Homo sapiens: one gene and its partners. The protein of the gene in region 1 purifies or fractionates together with the protein of each later gene. This does not show direct contact. Each region holds a gene or a part of one and is shown in the gene's direction. Other genes may lie near its edges. The genes, in order: NIPSNAP2, NPEPPS, EHD4, WARS1, COX7B, FLG2 and NAP1L1.

Evidence for each region.
Region 2: the proteins of NIPSNAP2 (region 1) and NPEPPS purify together in Homo sapiens (affinity purification with mass spectrometry; one large-scale study listed by BioGRID and IntAct). This does not show direct contact.
Region 3: the proteins of NIPSNAP2 (region 1) and EHD4 purify together in Homo sapiens (affinity purification with mass spectrometry, with the first as the bait; one large-scale study listed by BioGRID). This does not show direct contact.
Region 4: the proteins of NIPSNAP2 (region 1) and WARS1 purify together in Homo sapiens (affinity purification with mass spectrometry, with the first as the bait; one large-scale study listed by BioGRID). This does not show direct contact.
Region 5: the proteins of NIPSNAP2 (region 1) and COX7B fractionate together in Homo sapiens (co-fractionation; one large-scale study listed by BioGRID). This does not show direct contact.
Region 6: the proteins of NIPSNAP2 (region 1) and FLG2 purify together in Homo sapiens (affinity purification with mass spectrometry, with the first as the bait; one large-scale study listed by BioGRID). This does not show direct contact.
Region 7: the proteins of NIPSNAP2 (region 1) and NAP1L1 fractionate together in Homo sapiens (co-fractionation; one large-scale study listed by BioGRID). This does not show direct contact.

Annotation. Positions count from the first base shown.
Region 1 is NC_000007.14:55,995,010-55,998,477, forward strand, and holds part of NIPSNAP2 (protein NipSnap homolog 2), read left to right. Parts: intron 1-2,356; coding exon 2,357-2,440; intron 2,441-3,468. UniProt on the Homo sapiens protein: Protein involved in mitophagy by facilitating recruitment of the autophagy machinery required for clearance of damaged mitochondria.
Region 2 is NC_000017.11:47,617,235-47,620,989, forward strand, and holds part of NPEPPS (puromycin-sensitive aminopeptidase), read left to right. Parts: intron 1-1,115; coding exon 1,116-1,223; intron 1,224-1,774; coding exon 1,775-1,930; intron 1,931-2,043; coding exon of another isoform or gene 2,044-2,138; intron 2,139-2,502; coding exon 2,503-2,550; intron 2,551-3,755. UniProt on the Homo sapiens protein: Aminopeptidase with broad substrate specificity for several peptides. Involved in proteolytic events essential for cell growth and viability. May act as regulator of neuropeptide activity.
Region 3 is NC_000015.10:41,894,744-41,899,789, reverse strand, and holds the end of EHD4 (EH domain-containing protein 4), read left to right. Parts: 3' UTR 1-3,857; downstream 3,858-5,046. UniProt on the Homo sapiens protein: ATP- and membrane-binding protein that probably controls membrane reorganization/tubulation upon ATP hydrolysis. Plays a role in early endosomal transport.
Region 4 is NC_000014.9:100,332,675-100,337,653, reverse strand, and holds the end of WARS1 (tryptophan--tRNA ligase, cytoplasmic), read left to right. Parts: intron 1-451; coding exon 452-592; intron 593-2,617; coding exon 2,618-2,779; 3' UTR 2,780-3,864; downstream 3,865-4,979. UniProt on the Homo sapiens protein: Catalyzes the attachment of tryptophan to tRNA(Trp) in a two-step reaction: tryptophan is first activated by ATP to form Trp-AMP and then transferred to the acceptor end of the tRNA(Trp).
Region 5 is NC_000023.11:77,902,136-77,905,760, forward strand, and holds part of COX7B (cytochrome c oxidase subunit 7B, mitochondrial precursor), read left to right. Parts: intron 1-507; coding exon 508-632; intron 633-3,048; coding exon 3,049-3,126; 3' UTR 3,127-3,625. UniProt on the Homo sapiens protein: Component of the cytochrome c oxidase, the last enzyme in the mitochondrial electron transport chain which drives oxidative phosphorylation.
Region 6 is NC_000001.11:152,356,823-152,361,676, reverse strand, and holds the start of FLG2 (filaggrin-2), read left to right. Parts: upstream 1-1,670; 5' UTR 1,671-1,721; intron 1,722-2,770; 5' UTR 2,771-2,792; coding exon 2,793-2,930; intron 2,931-4,029; coding exon 4,030-4,854. UniProt on the Homo sapiens protein: Essential for normal cell-cell adhesion in the cornified cell layers. Important for proper integrity and mechanical strength of the stratum corneum of the epidermis.
Region 7 is NC_000012.12:76,056,908-76,061,328, reverse strand, and holds part of NAP1L1 (nucleosome assembly protein 1-like 1), read left to right. Parts: intron 1-1,049; coding exon 1,050-1,191; intron 1,192-1,450; coding exon 1,451-1,531; intron 1,532-4,421. UniProt on the Homo sapiens protein: Histone chaperone that plays a role in the nuclear import of H2A-H2B and nucleosome assembly.

The DNA of each region.
Region 1 (3,468 bases):
AGTTACTGGGATTTAAGAGTTCATTACTAAGTTGTACTGGGAAGTAGAGCACATCTTGAGTCAGTAACCTTAACCACTACAGCAAATCCGACGTCACAGAGGGACAGTCTGTACGGGGCTGTCTGGAACTAGCGAGGTCAACAGTGAAAGTCCATAGATTGATGGCATTAGTGAGCTGAAAGTGAGTAGGGATGATGGGGAAAGGAATAAGGGGTAAAGCAAGCAGCCATGGAAGAAGGAGGCCAGGGAAGTCAAGAGTGCCTTCCACAGAGTGGTCCCAGCCTTTCTTTGTAGACTGACTGCTTACTTCCTCGACAGAGGCAGGCCTGCATTTTACCCAGAGCAGCAGCTTCCTGCACATACTCACTGCCTGCCTTTGTAGACGTGGTTCCACTGTCTCATGACATTGACCCCCTCACCATTTCCATCCCCACACACTTTTGTTTGGCACCATCTTTGGTATTTTTCCAGGCCTGCCCCAGATGTCACCCTTCCCCAGTAGTGAACATCATCACTCCTCCTGAGCCCCCAGAGCCTTGTGTGGTGCTGGTTATTACCGTTGCGGCTGTATATGGTGTGCAACCCTCCCAGGCATGTGAATAAGCACAGGTGCTAGAAGGGCAGGATTGGATGGAGGAAGGTTCCATCCCTTTGGCTGTTGGGCAGAGGTCAAGCCAGGTGCATGCTCCATTCACATCAGCACCTGTAGCTGCCCGGAGAGGGCCTCCCAGATGCAGGATCCTGGAATGGCAAACAGGCAGGCACCAGAGTGTGAATGGCGGAGCTCTCATAGAGGCTGTGGGGAATGCAGGACAGACCTCTTGTCTCTGCCCTGTCGGGAGGACTCAAGGCTTCACAGAGCAACAGCAAGTTGAAGATGATTGCTTGAGGCCAGGAGTTTGAGGCTGCAGTGAGCTATGACTGTGCCACTGCACTCCAGTCTGGGCAAATAGAGCAAGACCCTGTCTCAAAAAAAAATGTAATTAACAAGATATTGGCTGGGCACAGTGGTTCACGCCTATAATCCCAGCACTTTGGGAGGCCGAGGCAGGTGGATCATCTGAGGTCAGGAGTTAAGAGACCAGCCTGACCAACATGGTGAAACCTCATCTGTACTAAAAATACAGAAAATTAGGCATGGAGGCGCATGCCTGTAATCCCAGGTACACAAGATGCTGAGGCAGAAGAATCGATTGAACTCAAGAGGCGGAGGTTGCAGTGAGCCGAGATCGCACCACTGCATTCCAACTTGGGCAACAGAGCAAGACTCCGTCTCAAAAAAAAAAAAAAAAGAAAAGAAACCAAGGCATCTGGATGAGATACCTGTGAATTGTACCATGACACAGGTGATCCCCCTCCACCTGAAGCGCCTTTCTTCCTATTCCTACGTCAGTGATGTCCTTTTCAACTTCAACACCCACCTGGTCAGCTTGCACCTTTCCCACAGCTCTCCCATTGCTTGCCCTGCTCCCCTATACACTGTGTCCTTGTATGGGCCACGGCACTCTCCACAACTGACCTCGCCTGCCTCATATCCTGGGGCTTCACCGCTGGAACACGCTCCCTGCCCAGATCAGTGTAGTGCGAGATAAATGTTGAGTAAAATTGATCTGACATTGCTCATCTGTGGTCTCACAGTTTCTGGTCATGAATTTAACATGTTATTGGAGAATTTCACTTGGTTTATAAAGGTATATCTTAGATTCACTAGATTGTAAAGCTTAAGAGGGAATTGTGTCTGGATGTGGTGGCTCACGCCTCGATTCCCAGCAGTTTTGGAGGCTGAGTCGGGAGGATCACTTGAGTCCAGGTGTTTGAGACCAGCTCGGGCAACATAGTGAGACCCCATCTCAAACAAACAAACAAATAATTTTTTTAACTTAAGAATGGGCCAGGCGTGGTGGCTCACCCCTGTAATTCTAGCACTTTGGGAGACTGAGGCGTTTTGATGATTTGAGCCCAGGAGTTTGACATCTGACTGGGCACAAAAAAATACAAAAATTAGCCAATGTGGTAGCACATTCCTGTAGTCCCAGCTATTCAGCAGGCTGAGGTGGGAGGATCACTTGAGCCTAGGAGGTCAAGGCCGTGGTGAAACATCATCGTGCCATTGCGCTCCAGGCTGGTTGACAGAGTGACCTTGTCTCAGAAAAAAAAAAAAAAAAGACTGAAAGTTTGCTTTTCCCACGTGGCCTAATATAATTTTGCTCAGAATTTCCCCAGCCCAGTATATTACACACCTGAAGTAGTCCCTGAGAAAACTAGATGTCCAGGTGAAGCAAGACTTTAACGGATGTATGGGTGGAATGCAGTGTATGTGTTTTAAGTCTTACTTCTCTGTGTGGTTATTTTTAAGCTTACAGGGATCTTCAGACCAGGGAAGACATACGGAATGCAGCATGGCACAAACATGGCTGGGAGGAATTGGTATATTACACAGGTAATCTCTTAACAGCCATGAAATATGCTTTTTGTCTTACTGTTTCAATCATGTTCTTTCACCCTGACACTAATAGGTGGGTTTTGTAATAGTATGTTGCTAGGATAGTGAGTTATCAGGTTGTGGGGGGAAGGGAGATAGTCAATTTTTCTCTAATACTTACATGACTTTTTTTCAATAAAGTAGAATATCCATGCTTTCAAATAGGTATATCATCTGTTACAGTTTTCAGACCCTTGGATGTTGTAAATTTTACATCATTACCTGTTTTTGTAGATTTCTATATTCTCTGAAAACTTATTACACAAATAAAATTTTTTTCTAAGCTTTCCTTTTCCATCAGAATTGTTAGTATCCCAAATCAGAACTTAATACATCAATTAAAGAGTGATTTTGAAATTAGATAAATTAAACTTCCTGTATGTACAGTATGTATCTGGGTACATAATACATGCATGTGCACATACATAAGTATATTATGAAACCCTGTTTGCTTGATTTTTAAAAGAAAACAGTTGGCTGAATGTAACCCAGTGGCATTGGTAGAGGTAATCAGTACCAGCCATGTTGCATGGCAAGTATATTTCAGGCCGGGCGCAGTGGCTCACGCCTGTAATCCCAGCACTTTGGGAGGCTGAGGTGGGCAGATCACCTGAGGTCGGGAGTTCGAGACCAGCCTGACGAACATGATGAAACCTGTCTCCATTTGAGAGACTGAGGCAGGAGAATCGCTTGAACCTGGGAGGTGGAGATTGTGCCACTGCACTCCAGCCTGGGTGACAGAGCAAGAATCCGTCTCAAAAAAAAAAAAGTGTATCTCAGCCCCTATACTACCAAGAAAATAAAAGAGTAATTTGTCCTAGAAAGTAGGTGTTACCTTGTCTTTCAGTTCAAGAGATTATATAACATATAATTACATGTTATAATTATATAATTGTATTTGATTTTGCTGCTTACGCGAACGTTTGAGAAATCACCATTTCTCCTCACAGTATGGACTTTTCCTACCTCCCACAAATAAAACAAAT
Region 2 (3,755 bases), on another chromosome or scaffold:
TCAGATATTCTGCATTCAGTATGTGCTGCTTTTGCAGTTAAAAAGTGTGAAGATGCATAATCCCACTGATCAGAAACCATCATTAATTAATACTACCATTTTGATGTATTTCCAGGGGTTCTCCCCCACCCCCTTTTTTTGGAAACACAGTCTTGCTCTGTTGTCCAGACTGGAGTGCAGTGGTACGATATGGGCTCACTGCAACCTCCACCTCAGCCTTCCAAAGTGCTAGGATTACAGGCGTGAACCACTGTGCCCAGCCATATATATATATATATTTTTTAGGATAATTCTGCTTTGTCTGCTTTCTTCACTTAAATATAAGAACATGTTTATGATATATTCTTAAAATATAACTTTCAATAATGCATTTTTATAAGTACAGTATTCATTTTCAATTTTTCACTATTATAAATTAATTTGATGATCTGGTATAAGAACACTAATGATTAGTTTGTTCTTCTAAAACAGAACATTAGCCAGATATCAATGATGTAAAGAATTTGGCTATGATAGATTTTACCTCTTAGATCTTGATGTTAAACTGGTCTGAACTAATGACAGGCTGTTCATCTGGTAGCATTTACATCTAGTGATTTACTTACTGTAACAGCAGATGACAAATTTAGTGCCAAAGCATCATTTTTTTTTTCTTTTATTTTTGAGACAGAGTCTCGCTCTCTTGCCCAAACTGGAGTGCAGTGGCACGATCTCAGCTCACTGCAACCTCCCAGGTTCAAGCGATTCTCCCGCCTCGGCCTCCCAAGTAGCTGGGATTACAGGTGGGCACCACCACGCCCGGCTAATTTTTTTTTTTTGTATTTTTAGTAGAAACAGGGTTTCACCATGTTGGCCAGGCTGATCTCGAACTCTTGACCTCAGGTGATCCACCCGCCTCGGCCTCCCAAAGTGCTGGGATTACAGGTGTGAACCACCGCACCTGGCCCAAAGCATCTTGAAAAGTATTCTCTTTCTTTAATATAATGCCCTGCCATTCTTACCTAGTGAGAATATAGAACCTAAGTTTTACCTTACTGGGGAAGAAGCTCATATAATCATATGCAGAACATCCAAGGGAGAGTTAACTATTCCTATCTTTATCTTTTTTCCTGTAGCTTCATAAACAAGCAGATATGCAAGAAGAGAAAAACCGAATCGAAAGAGTCCTTGGCGCTACTCTTTTGCCTGACCTGATTCAAAAAGTCCTCACGTTTGCACTTTCAGTAAGTTACGGTGAAAACTGCATTTAGAAGTGAATCGTTACCCATCTCTGAGAAGTGTCTCTGATTCAGCTCTGATCCTCTTGAGCTGCCTTAACCCTAACTAAAGCTTCCTTTTCCAGAGTAACTGGCTTGAGTTTTTGTTACTGACTTCTGTTTTTCTCCCACTAGTGGCGAGAATCAGAATAGTTGGGAGAGTAAACAAATTGTCTCTCCAGAATGGAAACTATGAGGACAGGGACTCTTGAAAACTGGGAAACTGGCTTATGCCTTTGCTTACTTTGTGTCTCTTCCTTTCTTAAACCTATAGGCTCCTAAGCAAGTATCTGTTGAGCAGTCTGTCTGTCTGAACCTGTCTCAGTACCTCATTCTCATTTTGGTTATCTTTAGCTTAAACATTATCTTCTTTGCTGAGAACTTCTGGTTCCAGTTATTCCTAAAACAAGGAATAAGTGTCTTCAGTGTGATTACTTCAGTGTCACAGTATGGTGCACTTTCTGGTACCAGAATATGTTTTTGATACACTAGACTTTTAGCTCTCTTTCTTTTTTTAGGAAGAGGTACGTCCACAGGACACTGTATCGGTAATTGGTGGAGTAGCTGGAGGCAGCAAGCATGGTAGGAAAGCTGCTTGGAAATTCATAAAGGACAACTGGGAAGAACTTTATAACCGATACCAGGGAGGATTCTTAATATCCAGACTAATAAAGGTATGTGAAAAACTTTGAGTAGCTTGCTAATCATGGATATTATTTAGTGACATCCATGATTCACTACACCCATACATTGTGGTCTTTGCTCTTTAAATGTTTCCTGTGGCCAGGTGCAGTGGCTCACGCCTGTAATACCAGCACTTTGGGACGCCGAGGTGGGCAGATCACCTGAGGTCGGGAGTTCGAGACTATCCTGGCCAACATGGTGAAATCCTGTCCCTACTAAAAATACAAAAATTAGCTGAGCGTGGTGGTGTGTGCCTGTAATCCCAGCTACTTGGGAGGCTGAGGCAGGAGAATCGCTTGAACCTGGGAGGCAGAGGTTGTGGTGAGCCGAGATGAGGTCATTGCACTCCAGCCTGGGCAACAAGTGTGAAACTCCGTCTCAAAAAAAAAAAAGTTTCCTTAAATAGTTACTGGCTTTATTTAAGGACTTCTCCATCTCCCATCACACATCCTTTATAACAGACTGAAGTTGGCAGAGAACAGAATGATTTATTTTTAGGGTAAATGGAAGTTTGTTCTCAGCCTCTTGGTTTCACTTACTGTTTAAAACCATTGTTTTGCAGCTATCAGTTGAGGGATTTGCAGTTGATAAAATGGCTGGAGAGGTTAAGGTAAGGAAAATACTGTTTACTCTTCACTTTTCAGTCTAGTAAGTAAAAACAATAACCTGGTTGTAATTATAGTGTTGGGATAATGTACTGTAGCATCTCTGTGTTTTTGTTTAGAGAAAGACATCATGCAGGGCTGTATAGGCCATATTAAGAATTTCCTAAAAATGGCCAGGCATGGTAGCTCACATCTGTAATCTCAGCACTTTGGGAGGCCGAGGTGGGTGGATCACCTGAGGTCAGGACTTCAAGACCAGCCCGGGCAACATGGTGAAACCCCAAATTAGCTGGACATGGTGGTGCACGCCTCTAATCCCAGCTACTCGGGAGGCTGAGGCAGGAGAATTGCTTGAGCCCGGGAGGTGGAGGTTGCAGTGAGCTGAGATCGTGCCATTGCACTCCAGCCTGGGTGACAGAGCGAGACTCCTGTCTCAAAAAAAAAAAAAAAAAAAAAAGTCCTAAAAATGGAAAGCCTTCGAATGGTTTATAAACAAGGCAGTGCCTTGATCTGATTTGTGTTATAAAAATTTCAGTCTGGCTGCAATGTGGATAATAGTTTGGAATGGGGAAGAGAAGATGTTGGGAAGCTAACTCTCCTAGCAAGAATGATAGAATAGCTTACAGTAGGGTAGTGGCAGTAGTGGAGGAGATGGAATAATGGAGATTCAGGGGCTTGAATTTGTTAACCATTTAGTTCAACAATATTTATTGATTGGCTTCTCTGTTGTGAGCATATCTGGGAGAGGAAGAAAAACAAGCCAGGATAATCCCCAGGTTTCTGGTGTATAAATGTTGGTACTACTCTGCGATGGAATGGAAAAAGACTTGAGGCCCTGAGAACTGAACCATGATTAGGAGCCTTGGAACAGTAGCAATTGTCATCTGTGTAAATAAGGTTATTGATTTCTAAAAGGTCTATGTTTAATCAGATGGATTAGTCATTCTGTCTTTCACACCTGTGGTGACTAATTCAAAGGAAAAGCCCTATCATTTTGCCAGCTGGTGTTTAAGAGTTGCTTTGTTTTCTGTGAAACCAGGTGTACTGCATTAGAAAAGTTTATTCAACTTTTAATCATTAAGCATTGTGATAAATTGTAAACTTAGAAATTGTTTGGTTTACTGTATTAAAAATGTTGGATTCCTGTAATTCCAGCATTTTGGGAGGCTGAGGTGGGAGGATTGCTTGAGTTCAAGAGTTCAAGACCAGT
Region 3 (5,046 bases), on another chromosome or scaffold:
ATACTTAAACTACAGTAAAGAAAAGAGGTGGTTCTCTGCAGTGATCGTTTAGTGTGGCCCTCAAACATTAAATATCCCGAGGTCTCCTTGGTGGGTGGCAGGATTTAAATTCAATCAAATCCTGTCCTAGTGTGTGCAGTGTCTTCGGCCCTGTGGACACAGGTGAATGAGGGACCAGCCCTGCCCTGGGCTGTTGAGAAGAGATCAGTCCACCCAGAGTTAGACATTGTTTTTGTAGAAAACAGGCATTTATTATGTCTAGGGTTTTGTGTTTTTTTTTTTTCCTTACAGGATAAAAGCCTTTATACAGAAACAAAATGGAACCTTTCATATAAAACCTTTTCTTTAAAGGCTGTGTGGTTCGTATCATGAATGCCCATCACGAGGCAGGATTCGGGCACATACCTGTACTTCTGCTCCAGAGTGTGCGCTCCCCAAATCCCCTGAGTAAACCTCTCTGGACTGCTGCTCAGACACCTGCGTCAGGTGGAGGTGCCTCCCCCTCTGTGGGCACCAGCTTGGGGAGGTAGGTGACTTTTCCTTGCAAATCTCCCTGCCTCATCTCCAGAAAATTGCATACCTGCATGGCCTCTCTGCATTATTTATGCAGGAAGAGACACGAAACAGCAATGGCCACATGGTATGGGGGCCTGCTGGCACCAGAAGTGAATGAAATCAGAACCGTCCCACTGAGTCTTCCAAAAGGCACATAATTTTTTTTTTCTGTCACCTGCCTTTGGTGACAGGGTCAAAGGCACAGATTGAAGAGAAAATCTTGATTTGGGAGAAGCATTTATATCCAGATGCCTACCCTTACACTCCCTAGCTTACTTTCTACATAATTTAGTTTTAAGAGCAGGAAATGCATAACATGGTTTTTAGTCTTAACAAGCACTTAAATTCATTAGACGCATAGAAAAGAACCATTTATTATTTTATTATTTTTATTTTTATTTTGAGAGGAAGTCTCTGTCACCCAGGCTGGAGTGCAGTGGCGCAATCTCAGTTCACTGCAACCTCCGCCTCCCAGGTTCAAGTGATTCCCCTGCCTCAGCCTCCCAAGTAGCTGGGACTACAGGCACCCGCCACCACGCCCGGCTAATTTTTGTATTTTAGTAGAGATGGGGTTTTACCATGTTGGTCAATATGGTCTCGATCTCCTGACCTCGTGATCTACCCACCTCGGCCTCCCAAAGTGCTGTAACCTAAGCAGACAGTTCTGTGAATGCGTGAGGACCACCTGAAGTCTGCAGCCACGGTGGAGGTCACCAAAGGGTGAACTGAGAGAGAAGAGGGAATTCACTTGCCCAAAGGTTTACAGATGCCCAGGCAAACTGATTTTTCCATCCAGAATTATCTTGTTCTTTAACTCTCCTCAATTGTCATATATAAACATGAATTTATATACATGTGTGTCACATGAGTATGTCGTTTTAAAACAACGTGTACATATGTAAGTTTTGTCTGGATACAGAAAGCTGCTTTAGAGGGCAGCAGGTTGAGGTCTCTGATTTCTCCGTGGAGGAAAACCTCTCAGGCACTGTGATCTCCCTACCTCTGCGCTCTCAGGTGGGAGAGGCGTCAGGCAGCGGAGTCCTTTCCCTGCTGGCACCTGGTAATGTTCTTGGAGAGAAAGGAAAAAAAAAGGAAATCATTTGGCCACTTTTCTTAATATCCTCTTACATGCAGTCATTCATCAAGAAAAGTTGACTGGAAAAGAAAACACTAGAAAATATGAGGGATGGCGACCAAGTGAGGACTTGTATCTTCCCAGGACCAGTACAAAGTTCTGTGAATGTGTCCACACCACCAGCTGTCTCCCTACCCCACACGGCAGGGCGGCAGGGCCGACCCTGGGGCCTGCTCACCATCACCGTTGCCCTTCCTGCACCACCCCAATTTTCAAAGAACCTCTTCCACAGAGTGTTTATGTATAGGAGAGAGGGTGGAAGTACCTAAACTCTAGAACTACAACATCTAAGAAGCTGAGGCCCTGTTTTCTACACAGCATATGGTATCGCATAACACAAACCTTCCGGTCTTGAGTTTAAAGGGAAAATGAAAACTCCAGCCTATTGCTCCCACAGTCTGCTTCCAAGTTGTCAGCCTGCCAGTGAGGGTCTCCTGACCCCGTTTGTAGAGAAACACTGCACTAAGACTTGGGAATCTCCCCAGCTCCCAGGGAGGGGTGGCACACAACAGCCTTCCAACCTGCTTCCGCCTCCTGCTCCAGCCCTGCAGCGTCTGTCAATTCATTTCTCAACTCACCGCACTTGGATGGCCTGGGGGCAGGGTTGCTCTTCTGGGGGAGGGTCATTCATTCAGTTGGCTTTTGGCTTTCCTTTCTCCGGGCTGGGCCTGGTTCTCTTTTGAACACTTGTCGTGCTGCAGCAAGAGCATCTTTGGATTTGGGGCTGTGGAGCTGTGGTTCACCCGCGGGAGTCACAGCCGCGGCCTGGACCTTTCCACCTCGCACCCTCGCTCACCCTCCTTCATGATGCCTGGAGGATGCCTGAGACAATTGCCTTGAAGATGAGGAAAGTGTTTCACTGTTTATTTTCTCCATGGGATGTAGCAGGCAAGCATGCTTAGGACAGAAAACCACTGAGTTTACTCAGGTAAATGCGGGCCTAATACAAGAGTATTGGGTTCCAATGTTGGTTAACCAATGCAGTTAATACGCAATGCTTCTATTTTTTTTCTTTTTGTAATCTTATTTAGAAGTTTCAAACAAAAAGACATAGTCTGCTGATCAATAAACATGGAGCTGCCCTCTCCCACTGGCTCATTTTCCAGTGGCTGCGTGCTGGCCTCTCGGAGCAGAGTGTGGATCCCTGGATCCAGGTTGAACCGGGGGAGAAGAGTTAGGGAGAGGGTGTGCCTGTGAGCCCCAACTCTTCCTGTGGAGAGAAACCCAAAATGCAGCCGCTTCAGAAGGAAAGCGGCCCCATCAGGTGGGGACAGAAGAGGGTAGGCAGCAGAGGCCAGGTCTGTGGACAAAAGCCCCACTTCAGAGTGGTTGGAAGCCAGGACAGGAGGGACTCATGGAGGTGACCGCTTCACAGGAGTCCTTTCTCCAGTCGTGCTAGGGAGGAGCCCCTGCCTGTCCAGCACTGCCCCTGCCTCTTGCTGTACCTTGCCAGTGTGCCCTCCCCCCGCCCACTACCATAGTAGGCATCTGGCTTTTCCCACCAACCCATCTACCTTTTTGGTGGTCCAGACCTACAGTCTCCTTGCAGAGCACTCCTCCTCCCACCCTCACTTCAAGTGAGGTTTGGATGAGATTGACCACATCCCCTTGGTCACAAATATTGGCTCAGGAATGGACATGTGGCCCTGTTCAAGCCTATGAGAGCCAGGACCCCCAGACTTATGTTAGAACTCTTGAGAGAGATACTCTGTCTTCTCTGAACCTTGCAGTATATAGAAATGAGCCTATTGATGCAACAATATAAATGGCACTGAGAGGGGTGTCCAGAGCTGCTGGGGTCAGGGGAGGGAGGTCAGCCTGGCAGAAGCCATCTTGTGGAGCATGAAAATGAAAGAGACCTTGAGAAAGGCCAGAGGAATCCAGGCCTGTGGTGACAACATTTGAGCTGCTGGATCAAACCTCACCTGAAGTCCTTCCTATTCCTACTAGATATTTTTTTCCACTGTGTGGGCCAATGCATTCCCTTTATACTGTGTAAGCCAGGCATGGTGGCTCACACCTATAATCCCAGCAATGCAGGAGGCTGAAGTGGGAAGATCGTTGAGGCCAGGAGTTCAAGACCAGCCTGGGCAACCTAAGAAGACCCTGTCTCTAAAAAAGAATTAAATATAAATAAATAAATAATAAAAATATAATGTTTAAACCAGTTTCACTTGAGATTTTAGTTACTTGCAACATAAATAATCCAAACTTTGTTCCGACCCACAGGGTTCTCATTTCACCAGGGGCTGCAATCAGTCGTGGCCAAACAGGAGCCAGTCCTTGCATTGTATGCAGTGGCTTTAGCTGCCGTTGAGCTAGAAAGGAAGAAAAGCAGTCCACAGCCCCCGCCAACAGCTTCAAAATGCCAATCCCTGTTGAGGTCTATGTGCGAAGCACCACGCAGTTCAGTCTGTCCTCCCCGCTCACAACATCACACAGGACTCCACGGGCCGAGCAGTTCAGTCTGTCCTCCCACGCTCACAACATCACACAGGACTCCATGGGCTGAGGGTCTTACTAGGAGAAGGAACAAGCTCAGTCTCCCTGGGGTAAGCGGGTGGGATGAGGGACTTCCTAGAAGAAACAGGATTTTAACTGGGGCAGGCAGGATAGGTGAATGTGGATGATGGAGAATGGGAAAGGACGTTCAAAGCTGAAAGAGCAGCTGAAGCCCAGCCTTGGGGCAGGAGAGCTCTGGTCCTGCTCAGGAAATGGTGAGTGGCCCATGGAGAGCACCCAGAGTGAGGGGGGCAGACTAGCCTGGTTAGGTAAGCTGGCAGGCTTCCAAGGCCTGGCTGAGGCAAGGTCTGGCAAGTCTGGATTTTCCTTCCCAGGCTGTGGGAGGCTTCACAGGCACGAGCAGAGCTGCACTGTGGAAAGGTGCGGGGTGGTGGTGTCCAGGATGCCGAGTTAGGGGGTCCGTGATGAGGACCCCCAGGGGCAGTGAGGGCAGAAGGGGGGGTGCACGGGAGGACCGCCACAGCAACTGCTGCGAGCAAGGGAGGGACGCAGGGTGTCTGGAAGCCAGCCGCTGCAGAAGGGGCCTGGCAGGGAGAGGACAGCAGGAGAGGAAGCGTCTCTCAGACGCAGGAAGCCGCACCCCACCCGAGACCACGGCACCTCTCAGCGTCACCCCTGACTGCCTGCAGTGGGCCCAGGCGGTTCAAGTGTGACTCATCCCTAGCCCAGCTCTCAAGGGCGCGCTGAGCGGCTGTCCTGCTGTGGGCTGTGGCTGCCAGGAGCGCCTCCCTGAGGAGCGGGCTGTCGCTTCAGAGGCTCCAGGGCCGCTGGAAGACACCCACACACACACACCCCAGCCCACACTGCTACCCTGAGTTTAGCCAGAGGCGGGT
Region 4 (4,979 bases), on another chromosome or scaffold:
GTCTTGACCTCCTGGCCTCAATCGATCCTCCCCCCTCAGCCTCCCAAAATGCTGAGATTACTGGCACAAGCTACCATGTCTGGCCTTACCCATCCTTTTTCTGACGCTTGTTACCTGAGGAACTTGTCTGTCCCAGGTTTCAGTTCAATCAGTGCCTTGGCTTTCCCAACTCTATTCTCCTGTGTCTCCGAGGATGGGGGGTTCAAAGCTCATCTGCCCCCACCTCTCCTGCAGTGAGCCCCACAGTAGCTCACACCCAAGCCTCACAGGAAGAACAGCAGTGGGTCCCCCACTGGCTGTGCGCCCCCAACCGGCTGTGCGCCTTGGCCTTTCCCGGGTCCAGAATCTGACAGCACTCACACCTCTGACTTCCACACTTGGGCTTCTAGCCAGTGTCCAGGCACAGGATGAGCAGGACTGAGGAGCGTGTCTGTGTCCTCTTCTGGTGCAGGTCAATAAGCATGCGTTTTCTGGAGGGAGAGACACCATCGAGGAGCACAGGCAGTTTGGGGGCAACTGTGATGTGGACGTGTCTTTCATGTACCTGACCTTCTTCCTCGAGGACGACGACAAGCTCGAGCAGATCAGGAAGGTGAGCAGGGAACCCCAAGGGCCCACAGCCGCCTTCTGCCACCCACTCCTGCCCATGGGGCCTGGAAGGCTCCAACAGCCAGGCATGAAGGCTTGGTCGGAGGTGCTCAACTGAAACAAGGTGAAAACTGAGTAGACTCGCCCTCATGGTTTTTAGGCCTGGGCTCAGAAGCCTCATGAACAAATCTCGAAAGAGCAGATACAAATCACTATTCATTTAGGAGCCACCCAAAACAGTCTTGCTTTATTAGTCATCAGAGAAATGTAAGTTAACGTGATCAAAGCTAAGACAGTTGAGTATAGAATTAGTAGGGGCTTTTGTGTTGCCATTGACTATTTTCAGTGATTATGAAGCAGATGCTTCAAGGCACACTCAAGTGAGCAGAGTGTTTATCAGCACAGCCTCAGGAAGCAGTTTGGTACTGGGTACAAAGAGCCCAAAAATGTTCAGAGCTTCTCCTCAGGTTTTCTCATTCTTAGATTTTTTCCAAGGAAATAATCCTGAGTAAGAGAAAGCTTTCCACACAAAGATGTTAAAAATGATAATAGCAAAAAGTTCAACACAGACTCAGTACAACAGAGGAAACGTTAAATTAGAATTGTTACAGGGTGGATTATTATGCGGGCATGAACTATTTTAAGTGTTCATATGCAGGGCATGGTGGCACACATCTGTAGCCCCTGCTACTTGGGAAGCTGAGACAGGAGGATCCCTTGAGCCCAGGAGTTCAAATCCAGCCTGGGCGACATAGCAAGACCCTCATTTCTTTCTTTTTTTTTTTTTTTTGAGACAGAGTCCTGCTCTGTCACCCAGGCTGGAGTGCAGTGGCGCAATCTCGGCTCACTGCAAGCTCTGCCTCCCGGGTTCACACCATTCTCCTGCCTCAGCCTCCCGAGTAGCTGGGACTACAGGCACCCGCCACCATGCCCGGCTAATTTTTTTGTATTTTTAGTAGAGACAGGGTTTTACCGTCTTATTCAAGATGGTCTCGACCTCCCGACCTCGTGATCCACCCGCCTTGGCCTCCCAAAGTGCTTGGATTACAGCTGTGACCACCGCGTCCAGCCAAGACCCTCATTTCTTTTAAAAAAAAAAAAGTTTTAGTGACACAGGAAAATATGCCTATGATAGTGAAAAAAGGATACCAAATGAAAACTCAGGGAGGAGTTAACTATGTTTAAATGAAATGCACAGGGAAAGAAATGTGAAGAAAATCTACCAAATGTTAGCGGGAGACCCACCTCTGGGCATTTTTCAGGTGGGCAATTTGTAGGTGATTTTTCTTTACTTTGCTGCTGCTTTGTGGTTTGGGTACTTTATTAAATTTGCTTAATGAGCATGCAGTACAATCAGAAAAAGAAAAAATTAGCAAGATTTGGCTGGGCGCAGTGGCTCACGCCTGTAATCCTAGCACTTTGGGAGGCCGAGGCAGGTGGGGGGAGTGGATCACGAGGTCAGGAGATCGAGACCAGCCTGGCCAATATGGTGAAATCCCATCTCTACTAAAAATACAAAAATTAGCCAGGCGTGGTGGCAGGCACCTGTAATCCCAGCTACTCAGGAGGCTGAGGCAGGAGAATCACTTGAACCTGGGAGGCGGAGGTTGCAGTGAGCTGAGATCATGCCACTGCACTCCAACCTGGCAACAGAGTGAGACTCCATCTCAAAAAAAAAAAAATTAGCAAGATTTTACAGAAGCCATAAGGCTGCCAGGAATTGTTGTTGTTTAGTGCCTGGGGGAATGGCCCCTAGCATCGGTAGGGGTGGGGACTGCCCTCCCCATTGGCCCTTTCACTGTGAGAGGCCAAGTCATGGCTATCGTCAGAGCCAGGTTTCTAGCCGTTTTAGGAAAAGTGTAGCTGAAGGTATAGGTTATTGTTGTGGTAACAACAGATCTCACTTCTGAGTGCCACCCACGTGCCAGGCTCTGCATGGGTGGTGTGGGCTGAGCTGGTGCCCGAGGCAGGAAGGAGCCACTCAGGACATGTGGAGCCATCTCTCACGTGGCTGTCTCCCTCCGGGCAGGATTACACCAGCGGAGCCATGCTCACCGGTGAGCTCAAGAAGGCACTCATAGAGGTTCTGCAGCCCTTGATCGCAGAGCACCAGGCCCGGCGCAAGGAGGTCACGGATGAGATAGTGAAAGAGTTCATGACTCCCCGGAAGCTGTCCTTCGACTTTCAGTAGCACTCGTTTTACATATGCTTATAAAAGAAGTGATGTATCAGTAATGTATCAATAATCCCAGCCCAGTCAAAGCACCGCCACCTGTAGGCTTCTGTCTCATGGTAATTACTGGGCCTGGCCTCTGTAAGCCTGTGTATGTTATCAATACTGTTTCTTCCTGTGAGTTCCATTATTTCTATCTCTTATGGGCAAAGCATTGTGGGTAATTGGTGCTGGCTAACATTGCATGGTCGGATAGAGAAGTCCAGCTGTGAGTCTCTCCCCAAAGCAGCCCCACAGTGGAGCCTTTGGCTGGAAGTCCATGGGCCACCCTGTTCTTGTCCATGGAGGACTCCGAGGGTTCCAAGTATACTCTTAAGACCCACTCTGTTTAAAAATATATATTCTATGTATGCGTATATGGAATTGAAATGTCATTATTGTAACCTAGAAAGTGCTTTGAAATATTGATGTGGGGAGGTTTATTGAGCACAAGATGTATTTCAGCCCATGCCCCCTCCCAAAAAGAAATTGATAAGTAAAAGCTTCGTTATACATTTGACTAAGAAATCACCCAGCTTTAAAGCTGCTTTTAACAATGAAGATTGAACAGAGTTCAGCAATTTTGATTAAATTAAGACTTGGGGGTGAAACTTTCCAGTTTACTGAACTCCAGACCATGCATGTAGTCCACTCCAGAAATCATGCTCGCTTCCCTTGGCACACCAGTGTTCTCCTGCCAAATGACCCTAGACCCTCTGTCCTGCAGAGTCAGGGTGGCTTTTCCCCTGACTGTGTCCGATGCCAAGGAGTCCTGGCCTCCGCAGATGCTTCATTTTGACCCTTGGCTGCAGTGGAAGTCAGCACAGAGCAGTGCCCTGGCTGTGTCCCTGGACGGGTGGACTTAGCTAGGGAGAAAGTCGAGGCAGCAGCCCTCGAGGCCCTCACAGATGTCTAGGCAGGCCTCATTTCATCACGCAGCATGTGCAGGCCTGGAAGAGCAAAGCCAAATCTCAGGGAAGTCCTTGGTTGATGTATCTGGGTCTCCTCTGGAGCACTCTGCCCTCCTGTCACCCAGTAGAGTAAATAAACTTCCTTGGCTCCTGCTCTTGTCATTGTGCTCTGTCTGGGAGGTCTGAGGAGGGAGCAGAGACCCCTCCCCTCACCCTTCTGTGGATGACCTTGAGTCTGCTGGAGTCAAAATTTGGGGATGAAAGCGCACAGTCCCAGGAACCCCATGGTGTTGTGCCACAGCTCCCAGGAATGGGCTTGTGCTGGGAGAGCCCTTAGCAGCATCCTGGTGCGGGCTCCCTCTCACACCACATTTCTCATTTCCAGCAGCTGATGGAGAATGCAAGCAGAGGTTGTCCTCGCTTTTCAGAGGAGGGGCTGGCCGTGGGGTGCTTAGTGGTGCTGTGTAGTGACGGGGAGCACAGGCTGGGAGCCAGGTCGGGCCCCATTCACATGAGGCCCAGGGCAGAGGCCGAGCTGCAAGGGAGCCCTGGGCTCATTCTACCGGCCCATCCTTATTTTGCAAGTAGGGAAACTGAGGCTTAGGAGAGGAGAACATGACTTGTCCAAGGCCATAGGGTGACTCTGATACAGCGAGTCTGTCCTGACTCTTGGTGCTTTCCACACACATACAGAGGGACCATTTTACAAATGAGGGAACTACGGTTCCCACCCTGGAGGCTGGAGGCCTGGGCTCGAGTCCCACTCAGGTACCCGGGTGCACCATGACCTCAAGTAGGCTTCCTCTCCCGGTCTCGACTCCTGCTGGCCTGGGCCCCACCCCTGCCCTCCCCTGCTCACCTGGCTGGCTATGGCCAGTGGGGGTGAGCCACCCACAGAGGCCACATAGCTCACTAGCCTGTTGCCTTGGGCAACTAATATGACTCCTCGTCGCTCTACTGCACCTGTGACGCAAGTGCAATGAGGGGTGACAAATGGAGTCAGTGACAGCTGCTGCTGTCATTGTCCACCCAGCCACAGCATCTATTGGCAGGGCCCTGGTGAGACCCTGGCCCCAGGGAGGAGTGAGCCAACACCAACCAGCTTCTCCCCTCACCGGCTGTGTGACTCTGGCCAGGTCACTTAACCTCCCAGGACCTCCATCTCCTCCCCTGTAAAAAGCAGTGATGCCTCCTGTTTAGGGTCTTAGGAGGGGTGCCCTGGGTCCAATACTCAGGTGACTTGCCCAAGGCCACTGCTGGTCAGGACA
Region 5 (3,625 bases), on another chromosome or scaffold:
GTTCATTTGAGTTCATTTGCCCTTGTATGTTGTAAGTTGTTGGGCTCTATTGAGTAAACTTTAATGAAAATTTAAGTCATAAGTATTCAAATTAATCAATGGGAGCCAAAATTTCAGGGGTTATGCAAATACCACTTTGTAGAGAATGTTACTGACATCATTCATTCTTTGCTTTTTTCCCCCAACACTATTATGAAAACTCTCAGACATACTGAAGAGTTGGAAGAATCGTATGAACACCCATATACCCACCACAAAGATTCTACAGTTAACATTTTGCTATTTGTTTTATCATGTATTTGTCCATCTGTCAATTCATCTTATTTTTGTTGCATTTCAAAGTACACTGCTTTAATAGCTACAATATGTTTTAACATTTTATTGAACTACATAATACTGTAAAATTAACTTCCTTGGCTTTCCTGATTGGCAGTATCAATCACATATGTTTTCTTTACCTGACAATTGATAATATGCTTCTGTATTCTTTTTTCGTTTTCCTGTAAGTTCGAAGCATTCAGCAAACAATGGCAAGGCAGAGCCACCAGAAACGTACACCTGATTTTCATGACAAATACGGTAATGCTGTATTAGCTAGTGGAGCCACTTTCTGTATTGTTACATGGACATATGTAAGTACTATTGATTAATAATTTCTGTTTCAGATGTTTTTCATTCTCAGTCTATGCATTCAAAGTGTCTTAACATAGTAGTGTACATATCTAGTTAGGAGGGACTTGAGAGATTGTGTAATCTAATTACCCACACAGTGCAGGGGATTTTTTCCCCCCAGCATTCATCCATCTTCTGTTCTTAACATTCCCAGTAATAAATTGCTTACTGGATCACAAGGCAGCCCTTTCCATCTTGTGTAGCTGTTTTTTTTGTTTTTGTTTTTTTTTTTTTTTAAGAAGAAGTCTTGCTGTGTCCCCCAGGCTGGAGTGCAGTGGTGCGATCTTGGCTCACTGCAACCTCTGCCTCCTGGGTTCAAGCACTTCTTCTGCCTCAGGCTCCCAAGTAGCTGGGACCACAGGTGTGTGCCACCAGGCCTGGCTATTTTTTTTTTTTTTTTTTTTTGAGACGGAGTCTTGCTCTGTTGCCCAGGCTGGAGTGCAGTGGCGCGATCTCGGCTCACTGCAACCTCTGCCTCCTGGGTTCAAGTGATTCTCCTGTCTCAGCCTCCCAGGTAGCGGGATTACAGGCGCCCTCCAGTACGCCTGGCAGATTTTTGTATTTTTAGTAGAGACGGGGTTTCACCATGTTAGTTAGGCTGGTCTTGAACTCCTGACCTCAGGTGATCCGCCCGCCTTGGTTTCCCAAAGTGCTAGGATTACAGGTGTGAGCCACTGTGCCCAGCCTTGTGTAGCTGTTAAAAGGATCATATGGTGAGTTAAAATCTGCCTTTTTCCTATGCTACCCATTGTTCATTGAAGCACAGAAATTCTGACCCACTTCCATATAACAGCCATCAGATAATAGAAAATTGCTATCATATCTCCTCAATTTTCTTTTTCAAATTAAACATCCTTAGTTCTATCAGTAATTTTTTTGTTCATGGTTTCCAGGATTTTTACTGTCTTGGATCGCCTTCCTGGACATAACTTCACTTAACAATTTTTCTTTTAAAATTTTACACTCAGAACTTAGCACAGTATTCGTGACAGATGAGATGTAATGTATCTTTTTATATTTTAGTTTCTTTACATCTTACATTTAACAATCTATCTTTCAGTCACTGTTACTTACTGGCTAAAAGTAGGAGTCCTGAAGTCTGTGTTTTTTTTTTTTGTTTTGTTTTTTGTTTTTTTTTTTTTTGAGATGGAATCTTGCTCTGTCGCCCAGGCTGGAGTGCAGTGGCGCGATCTCTGCTCACTGCAAACTCCGCCTCCCGGGTTCACGCCATCCTCCTGCCTCAGCCTTCCGAGTAGCTGGGACTACAGGTGCCCACCACCATGCCCGGCTAATTTTTTGTATTTTTAGTAGAGATGGGGTTTCACCGTGTTAGCCAGGATGGTCTCGATCTCCTGACCTCGTGATCCACCCACCTCGGCCTCCCAAAGTGCTGGGATTACAAGCGTGAGCCACTGCGCCCGGCCCGAAGTCTTAATAAATGCATAAGTTGGTTTAAAAAGATACAAATTAATCCTTAATGTAATAAACTTTATTTAAATAAATAGGCCTTTTTAGTTTTTGTTTTGATCTTCCTGAAATCAAATATTAAGATGTGTGCCTAGGCTGGGCATGGTGGCTCACGCCTGTAGTCCTAGCACTTTGGGAGGCCCTGGCGGGTGGATCACCTGAGGTCAGGAGTTTGGTACTAGCATGGTGAAACCCCATCTCTACTAAAAATACAAAAATTAGCCGGGCGTGGTGGTGGGCACCTGTAGTCCCAGCTACTTGGGAGGCTGAGGCAGGAGAATCGCCTGAAGTTGGAGGGGGTGGAGGTTGCAGTGAGTTGAGATCGTGCCACTGTACTCTAGCCTGGGCGATAAAGCGAGACTGTCTCAAAAAAAAAAAAAGTCTCAAAAAAAAAATTAAAGTGTGCTTAATTAGAAGGATAAACAGATGTTGAACAAATGTTTGATCAGAGGAGCTTTTGGAGGTGAAATGTTCCTTAGTGATACAGAGAATATAAAATACTCTGGCAGTTACTTAGGTAGTTGTGGTTGAGGGAATCAGTGTATTGAGTGGGTAGTATAGAAATGTGAAGTATAAATTTGAATTAAATAAAATTTAAAAATTCATTTCCTTGGTGATACTAGTCATATTCCAGGTGGCTAGTAGCCACATGTAGCTAGTGACTACTGTTTTTAACAGTGAAGATCTAGAACATTTCCTTCAGCTCAAGAAGTTCTATTGAACAACAGGACTGCTCTAGAAAATTAGGACAGCAATCAGGTTTGGCCTATATGGAGGGTATTAGATCCCAGGTGAGTTTCTGTGTATTTTTAACCTATAGAACAGAATATCTGTCATTTTCAAGAAATAGTCTCCGAGAGAGTGTACTCTGGTTTAAACACGTAACTGACAGCATTTTAATTCTTACAGGTAGCAACACAAGTCGGAATAGAATGGAACCTGTCCCCTGTTGGCAGAGTTACCCCAAAGGAATGGAGGAATCAGTAATCATCCCAGCTGGTGTAATAATGAATTGTTTAAAAAACAGCTCATAATTGATGCCAAATTAAAGCACTGTGTACCCATTAAGATATGGCATTATTGAAGAAATAAAGTACATTTGAAACCTTCATTGTAGGTTTTGTTTCTTTGTAAATGAAACTAAGCTTGATCACTTTAGCCTTTATGTTAATATTAAAGTCAAATGCTGTGCAGCTTCTTAAATAGGTTTTTTTTTTTTTTTTTTTTTTTTTTTGGGACGAAGTCTCACTTTGTCCCCCAGGCTGGAGTGCAGTGGCACCATCTCAGCTCACTGCGACCTCTGCCTCCTGAGTTCAAGTGATTCTCCTGTCTCAGCCTCCCGAGTAGCCAGAACTACAGGCACATGCCATGACGCCCAGCTAATTTTTTTTTTTTTTGAGACGGAGTCTCACTCTGTTGCCCAGGCTGGAATGCAATGGCGTGATCTCGGCTCCTGCAACCTCCGCCTCCCGGGTTCAAGCGATTC
Region 6 (4,854 bases), on another chromosome or scaffold:
TTTCAAGGGCCTATTCATTAACATTTTATGAACAGACACTCATTCTTAGTGTTTACCAAGCTCTAGGTGCTGCCTAGATGGTGGAATGAATAAGATATGATGACTGGCCCAAAGCAATGCCCAGATAGGAGTTTATTGACTCCATATATGTAGAATATATATGGTTAAGTGCTAGGCTTTAGCATCGGCTAGCATGTGTATCTGTTCTAGTGCTGCTACTAACTAGCTGCGATTTGTAACAAATGTTTACATTGCTCTATGCTTTTATTACCTTATCTATAAAATGGGGTTATTTTGAGGAATAAATAGATAAGCATGTAAACCTACCATGTATAGAAGATAGTAAGCACTTAGCACTTAATGGTAGCTGCTATCCTCCTCATCATCATCATTATCACCTGGTAGCAAAGTACAGCAGAATTGGCTCTCCATGCTTAAGACTTACAGCTCTCTGATTATTTTTGTTACCCTCAAGTGTATTTGATATACTTTCTGTACATAAGTGAACATTTTCCCAAGGGTCCAGGCCCTAAACATGCCAGACTACCAGTGGATCGCAGAGTGCTGGAAGAAAGCTCACTCTAAATTCACCCTGAACATATCTGAAAACATTATTTTTATATATAGCCAATTACACTTTTCTAGCCTAGAAATGAGCCTTCACAAGGTCAGAGAATGTTTCCTCTCTTCCTAACAGCACTCTGTATGTTACTTTTTTATATTATTTGCGTTTGAGTGGGCCTTACACTCCTAAAATGGTGCATAATTTTTGCATGATAGTTATATATGATAAATACACAGAGGTAAGTTAGTATAATGGTAAACAGCAATTGCAATAAGGTAGATACAGGTTCAACTTCTGGTTTCTCTGCCTACTAGCTATGACCTTGGAGAAGATCCTTATGCTTCCAGAACCTGTCTCTATAAAATGGGATAATAAATACATATCTCGTATGAAGGTTGTGAAGATTAAATGAGGTGATAAGATCTAGTATTTGGTAACATAATATGGTAACTATAGTTAACTATTTATTGTATATTTTTAAATAACTAAAATAGTAGAATTAGAATGTTCCTACTACAAAGAAATGCTTGAGGTGCTGGATACCCCAATTACTGTAATTTGATCATTACACATGGTATGCCCATATCAAAACATCACATGTACCCAACAATTATATACAACTATGTACCCATAACTAAAAGTGCAGATTTTTTAAAGATTGAGATGGTTTGTTTAAAGTATTTAGCACATAGTAAATTCTCAATAAATGTCACTTTTTATTATTACAAAAAAGACATGAATTAGATGAACCTAGTGGCTCAGGTTCATTTTCAATTAAATAAGCATTTATTGTGCACCTTCCAAGTATCTTACACTCTGCTACTTTCTGTGGGTACTAGTTAAAAGAAATGTATAACATGAGTCCTCTAAAACAAAGTCTGTGCTTTTCACATGTATATGACCCTGAAAAAAAAGGTATCTTGCAACCATGTCCTCGTACTGGAAGGTGGGGCTGGTACTAGCCTTTCTGCAATCATCTGTAGATAACAATGTGAAGGAGGAAGGTAAATATGTAGAGGTGGAGTTAGGTTTGATGGAAAATGAATCACCTCATTCACTATAATCACTATAAGCTATATAAGGGTCATTATCCCAATCCATCGTCACCCTGCAAGCTGCATCAGGCTTTATCCTACTTGTTCCTTTGGTGAACCAGGTGAGAGAAAATTCATCCAGCTACATTTATGAATATTTGGTGTTGTCCATAGTAGAAGTCTAGGGATATAAGCTAAGGCAGAGTTCATGTATATTTTGCCTTTCTTTTCTTTTTTGTTTCTTTCTTTCATTTTCTTTTCTTTTTGTTTGCTTATTTGTTTGGTTAGTTTAGTTTATTCTGGGGCCTTTTTGTAGTTAAGTTCATTTTTATGGAGAAGAATAATGCAAGTAAAAGTTCACCTTCCTCTAGGCCATTCCACAGTCTGTTCCGAGTCTTTTTCCATGCCCTCTTTTCTGGGCTGTCCAGCTCAAACTGGGAGGCAGCTGGGTCTGTTGCAGAGTCCCTTCCTTATTCAGTGTTGGTTCCCAGAGCTCCAAGATCTAATTATCCACTAGTTAAACTGCTGCCTGCATTGCTGAGCTCTTCTTCTTGATTAATTAAAGAAAACAGTGTTTGGTCAAGTGCTTGACATTAAGAGAGTTCCTAAGCTCTACTGAGTTCTACTGTCTCATGCCTATGAAACACCAAGCTATTTTGAGCCCCTTTGCCCATTTTTAATTTGCTGAAGGCCTTAAGGGTCCAGTTTAGCTTCTGGTGCCCAGAGGATAAACAGATGTGCATGGTGGAAGGTCTGTCACTTTTGACTCAAGAAAAGCAGTGAAACTAGAAAGAGAGATTGAGGCAATGGTGTCTGGCTGGTTCTGGAAATTTTGGAAGCCTTAGAACAACACCCAGAATGCCAACACACTCAAAGTGTAGAGATACTATGTAGAGACTATACTTACCCATGACAGGAAATATAGAGACTTGAGGTCTATTCTCAGTTGAACCAGTAACATGCCAAGACTTGATCACAGAAAAGTAACTCAAAGTTAACAAAGTTAATTTTCATTGTGTTAAACGGGGTTGTATCATCCCTGGCCCATTCTTACGTTTTGAGATTTAAAAAACAAGAGGTTAAAAAAATCATGCTGGTTATTATTAAAATGAAAATTGCTGATAAAAGGAGAGAATATGAATAATAGGGTTCTTTGTTTTTCTGTGTCCAGGTTCACTTAAACTTGCAAAAAGATGACCGACCTCTTGAGAAGTGTTGTCACCGTAATTGATGTTTTCTACAAATACACCAAGCAAGATGGGGAGTGTGGCACACTGAGCAAGGGTGAACTAAAGGAACTTCTGGAGAAAGAGCTTCATCCAGTTCTGAAGGTGAGAGCCATGTGCCAGAACTGAAGGCTGCTGGAGTCCTGTACAAGCTCTGTTGTATGACCCAGATCAGCTAAAAAGTGCACAGCCCCAGTGAACTCTAAGCAAACTCTATGAGTGGTATTTTGGGGATGCCAGAAAGTCTGTTAAAGCAGCAGATATTTTAAAGAAAGTGAATGTTTCGTCCTCACTTTTCCACCTATGCACTCCTACCTCATAGACTCTCAGACTTTCTCATACACCCAGGCTTTTCCTTAGAAAAAGCAGAAAATAAAATTATACTAGGACACGAATTAATAAATTATCCTATCAAATGGAAAAAAAAGTATAGAAAGGGAAATCATCTACATAGGGAGTTGACAAAATAGCCATGATTAAGAATCAAAAATAAAATGCCAGCATTTTATTCCATCTACTTAAAAAGGACTCAGCTAGGCGCGGTGGCTCATGCCTGTAATCCCAGCACTTTGGGAGGCCGAAGTGGGTGAATCACAAGGTAAGGAGATCAAGACCATCCTGGCTAATACGGTGAAACCCCATCTCTACTAAAAATACAAAAAATTAGCCGGGCGTGGTTGCATGCCCCTGTAGTCCCAGCTACTCGGGAGGCTGAGGCAGGAGAATGGCGTGAACCTGGGAGGCAGAGCTTGCAGTGAGCAGAGATCGCACCACTGCACTCCAGCCTGGGCTACAGAGCAAGACTCCATCTCAAAAAAAAAAAAAAGACTCAGTTATTAACTTCAAAATAATAGATGATAAATTCCAACATGGAAGATATTAACATGTAATAGTTACAATTTATGTAAAACTTAGAAATACCAGTTACTGAACTTAGTTTATTCCACTCCTTCCTGTAGGCCTTACCTAAGCACTTAATCCTTTAGCCTAAATCCTTGAAATGTCTTCTTCTGAGGATCCCAGTAGTCTTTATTTTCTATTAACCCTTAACATTTACTGGGTTCTATTAACCTAAAGTAATCCTTTATTGGACTAAAACTACATCATGTCAAACATCCATAATTTCACAGCGCTATTTAAATGTGTTAGTTGAGTATGCAGGTTAGGCTGACCAGGTCTCCCTTGGTGTGTCACTCATATACAGAACCCAGATGATCCAGACACAGTGGATGTCATCATGCATATGCTGGATCGAGATCATGACAGAAGATTGGACTTTACTGAGTTTCTTTTGATGATATTCAAGCTGACTATGGCCTGCAACAAGGTCCTCAGCAAAGAATACTGCAAAGCTTCAGGGTCAAAGAAGCATAGGCGTGGTCACCGACACCAAGAAGAAGAAAGTGAAACAGAAGAGGATGAAGAGGATACACCAGGACATAAATCAGGTTACAGACATTCAAGTTGGAGTGAGGGAGAGGAGCATGGATATAGTTCTGGGCACTCAAGGGGAACTGTGAAATGTAGACATGGGTCCAACTCCAGGAGGCTAGGAAGACAAGGTAATTTATCCAGCTCTGGGAACCAAGAGGGATCTCAGAAAAGATACCACAGGTCCAGCTGTGGTCATTCATGGAGTGGTGGCAAAGACAGACATGGTTCCAGCTCTGTAGAACTGAGAGAAAGAATAAACAAGTCACACATTAGCCCTTCTAGGGAATCTGGGGAGGAGTATGAATCTGGATCTGGATCAAACAGTTGGGAAAGGAAAGGTCATGGTGGTCTGTCATGTGGATTGGAGACTAGTGGGCATGAATCAAACTCTACTCAGTCAAGAATTAGAGAACAAAAGCTTGGGTCTAGCTGTTCAGGTTCAGGAGACAGTGGGAGGCGAAGTCATGCATGTGGTTATAGCAATTCAAGTGGGTGTGGAAGGCCACAAAATGCTTCAAGTTCTTGTCAGTCACATAGATTTGGAGGGCAAGGAAATCAATTTAGCTATATTCAGTCAGGCTGTCAGTCAGGAATT
Region 7 (4,421 bases), on another chromosome or scaffold:
ACAAAGAAGGAAACAACAGACACTGGGGTTACTTGAGGGTGGAGTGTGGGAGGAGGGAGAGGAGCAGAAAATTAAGTATTGGGTACTGGGCTTAATACTTGGGTGATAAAATAATCTGTATAGCAAACCTTCACATACACCCCTAAACCTAAAATAAAATTTTAACAAAATAGTGCTTCACAGTTCATTGTATGGTGTATGAACTTTATCTCATCAAAGCTGTTATTTATTTTTGAGACAGGGTCTCATTCTGTCAGCCAGGCTGGAGTGCAGTGGTGGTGCAATCTTGCTCAATTCAGCCTCGACATCCCAGGCTCAGGTGATGCTCTCATCTTAGCCTTCCAAGTGGCTGGGACCACAGGCATGCACCACCACACCCAGCTAATTTTTGTATTTTTTGTAAGGACAGGGTTTTGTCATGTTGCCCAGGCTGGTCTTGAGTTTTTGGGCTAAAGGAATCCACCTGCCTCGGCTTCCCAAGGTGCTGGGACTACAGTTGTGAGCCATAGCACCTGGCCCTAAAGCTGTTATTTTAAAAATACATGTCTCCTCTTTATAGTATGTTACACTTGTATTTAATAATGTAATTACTAATTCCTAATTAAATATGGAGACTAAAAAAATAATGGTGTGTGGAATCTTGTCCTTTTTCCTGATATGTCTATGCTCCCCTCCTTTTTCCTAATAACTTGTATGGGTGAGATATATGTAAAAGAAAAATCCAAGTAATCATTGTTCTCAGAATTAAGATGGTCTGTCCATGACTTCAGCAATGACAAGTCCAACACTTAACTTGGGTAAAGATTTAGGGTTGACAATATGATTTACATTTTGTTTATCAATTTACCCAGTTACATTTCTACTTTTGAAATATAGCCAGTGGATCAATGTATTTATATCTATTTGATTTTTATTTACTTTGAATCTACCTTTTGCTTCAGATAAAAAACCTGTCATTCACTAACTCCAATGCTTCAGTTTCAGTATGACAAAAGAAGTGTGACTTCCATTTTACTCTGATGCTATATAACTGATTTCTAACCTTTCAGCCTGCCTAGGGTAGTTAAAAGACGAGTGAATGCTCTCAAAAACCTGCAAGTTAAATGTGCACAGATAGAAGCCAAATTCTATGAGGAAGTTCACGATCTTGAAAGGAAGTATGCTGTTCTCTATCAGCCTCTATTTGATAAGGTAATGCTTTCTCCTACTTTGTTTAATTTAACATTCTAGAAGACGAATTCTAGAAACATAAGCAGACTTGGAAGAGGTTAATCTTTAGAACTCTCATTGAAATTGTTATTAGAGGCAGCACTTGGAGGAACTATCAATAATAGCAGTTAAAGTTGTGGTATGCATTTGTTAAATTTGTAAGACTTCTTAGTGAGAAACCACTGGTTTTAGCTTGGATGCCAGTGTTTTTATACAGCCTTTTTTTTTTAAATCATTTTAGCGATTTGAAATTATTAATGCAATTTATGAACCTACGGAAGAAGAATGTGAATGGAAACCAGATGAAGAAGATGAGATTTCGGTTAGTACCAACTTTATTTTGGTATGTTTTTAAGATGATAAAATCTTAGGACTTGTCAGAAATGTTAGCATTTAATGATGGAGTACAATATTATATAACCAGTTGTATTTTTTCATTTTTTAATTTTACGTCTTTATTACACGTTTTTCTATTACTTTATTTTTAAAAAACAGTCATTCAAGATTGTAATTTGCATGGCAATAAGCAGCGGTTTCATGGGTTCTAAGTTTCTTAAGTGTCCACAGCAGTTTAAAACACCACAAGTCTTATTTCCAATTTGCAGCACCTGACTTAAAGTTCGAATTCATCTGATGGAGCATTAAAACTGTCATTTTCTCTTGTGAAAAGACATAATTGCTATTTCCAGGACTGTATATTGAACATGGTTGTACATTATTTTTAATTGGTTAGTAGAATTTTACTCATGTAATTTATATCCAGAATAAGAACCTCTAGCATCTCTGAATGGCCTTCCTCTCAGAACGATGATGATTAAATGTCTAAAATGTATCTGGGGTGCCCCCACTTGACATTACCAAACATGTTTCCAAATAATCTTAGAAAATATGATTCTTTAAACATATGCATACCACATCTTTAAACATAAACATACCACACAGTGCACCATCACTTCCTTAACCATTTTCCAATTGTTCACTTATAACATTTGCAATTTTTTATTATAAATCATATTGTGATGAATACTTTCATCCATAAGTTTTATTGCAAGGCTTATTGTTTCTTCTAATGTCTTCTAATTTCAAAGAAGTGGCTTACTGGTTCAAACAGTGCACATACGTGGTTTTAAGGCTTTTAGTATACTTTACCAAATAATCTCCAGAATAGCTCCAACAACTCCTACCAACAGTATGTTATTGTGCCCATAGGGTGGACTTGATAACAGCAAAGCAAATTCAACCACAGATATATTAGATTCTCACCCATCTCAAAACTATCACATCAGAGAAGCAAGGAGACATATTATTGGTGAGGAAGCCAAATTCAAATTCTTTTAAAAAATCACTCAGCTTTAGATCAGTAAAATAATCAACAAAAATGGTCACCGCAAAGTCTACCGGGTTTTTCAAAAAATAAAAAGAGAGAAAGAGAAAGGCCAGGCGCAGTGGCTCATGCCTGTAATCCCAGCACTTTGGGAGGCCTAGGTGGGCCAATCACTAGGTCAGGAGTTCGAGACCAGCCTGGCCAACATGGTGAAATCCCATCTCTACTAAAAATACAAAATATTAGCTGGGTGTGGAGGCGGGTGCCTCTAATCCCACCTACTCGGGAGGCTCAGGCAGGAGAATCACTTGAACTCGGGAAGTCGAGGTTGCAGTGAGCCGAGATCGCACCACTGCGCTCCAGCCCAGGCGACAGTGTGAGACTCCGTCTCAAAAAAAAAAAAAAAAAGTACCAAATAACCAAAATTTTTTATTTGACTAAATTCTGTTCATGTATGAGCATGACAGTCTCTCCTGTTTATTTGACTTTGGCAATAAAAAAATAAGCAGCCTTGTACAGAACAGGGAAAATGCCAAGAACGAAGGCAGTCTACAGTTTTACTGTAGAATACATATATATATATATATATATATATATATATGTAGGCCTCTCTCCCTTTGGCCATATCTACTGTCAGTTCAGGCCATTAACTACAGACAAATTTTCAAATTCACTTCTTCTCCAAGATCTTCGATGCTGTCATCATCTACTTCTGTCTGTTTTTCCTGAATGACCTCAATTATGTCATCTGTAAAGTCTCCTTGAATGATAATTTCATCCTCCTCTGTTACTGAGGCACCACAGGAGAATTTTTGAGCAAAAAATCTTTGTGTGATTTAAGATCAATTTCAAAAGTTACAAGGCCACAACCCTTGTCACATATTTCTTTGCTCTGGGAATTTTGGCTATAGTAACCTTTTGTGGTACCGTCTTTGTTTTTTTGTTTTATTTGACCCCTTCCACCTCTCTTCTGTTTTTTCTTCTCCTCTTCTTCCCCTGCTGTTCCTTGACCTTGACAGATTCCAGCTTCTTGTTTGGGTGAATTTTCCACAGTAAGTTTTGCATATTCATTTGGAAAATTCTTCTCTAATCATTGTCTACATTTAGCAACATCAGGCATATATTCACAGTACTCTATTGGTAATGAACAGACTCCACAATAAAGGACTCAAAGTAGGTAATCAGCATCTAACTTGGCTCTGTTCCTTGGGTCTCCTTTGCAGTCAGCCCTATTGGAATCGGAAACGTCAGCAGCCATTTCACAAACCCAGGCAGTTGCACAGGCCCCGCCAGCTCTGCTCCCGCCACTGTTGCCAGCTGAGCCGACAAATGCAACTCGTTTCCCCGGCCAGGGCCTCCCTAGAGCATCAGTTGTATTTTTATACCTAGGAAATATTTTTCCTTTTTGTAAGAATGATAATGCAGATGAACTGTTATTCAACCTGGCACCACCATCTGTACTCAAAAAGTCATTATTTCCTTACATTTTATAGTTTTTTTGTTTAAGAGACAGGGACTTGCTGTGTTGCCCAGGCTGGAGTACACTGGCATGATCTTGGCTCACTGCAGCTCATTCCTGGGCCCAAGCTATTCTCCCACCTCAGCCTCCCAAGTTGCTAGGACTATCTGAAGCTACTATGCCCAGCTTAATCTACTTTTTTTTGTAGAGGCAGAGTCTTCTTGCCTAGGCTGGTCTTAGACTCCTGGCTTCAAGCAATCTTCGCACCTCAGCCTCCCAAACTGTTGGGATTATGGGCTTGAACCACTGAGCCACTGTGCCCAGCCTATTTTTATAGTTTTTTTGAGTCTCTGTTGCCCAGGCTGGAGTGCAGTCTCGGCTTATTGCAACCTCCACCTCCTGGGTTCAAGCAATTCTTCTGCCTCCTTC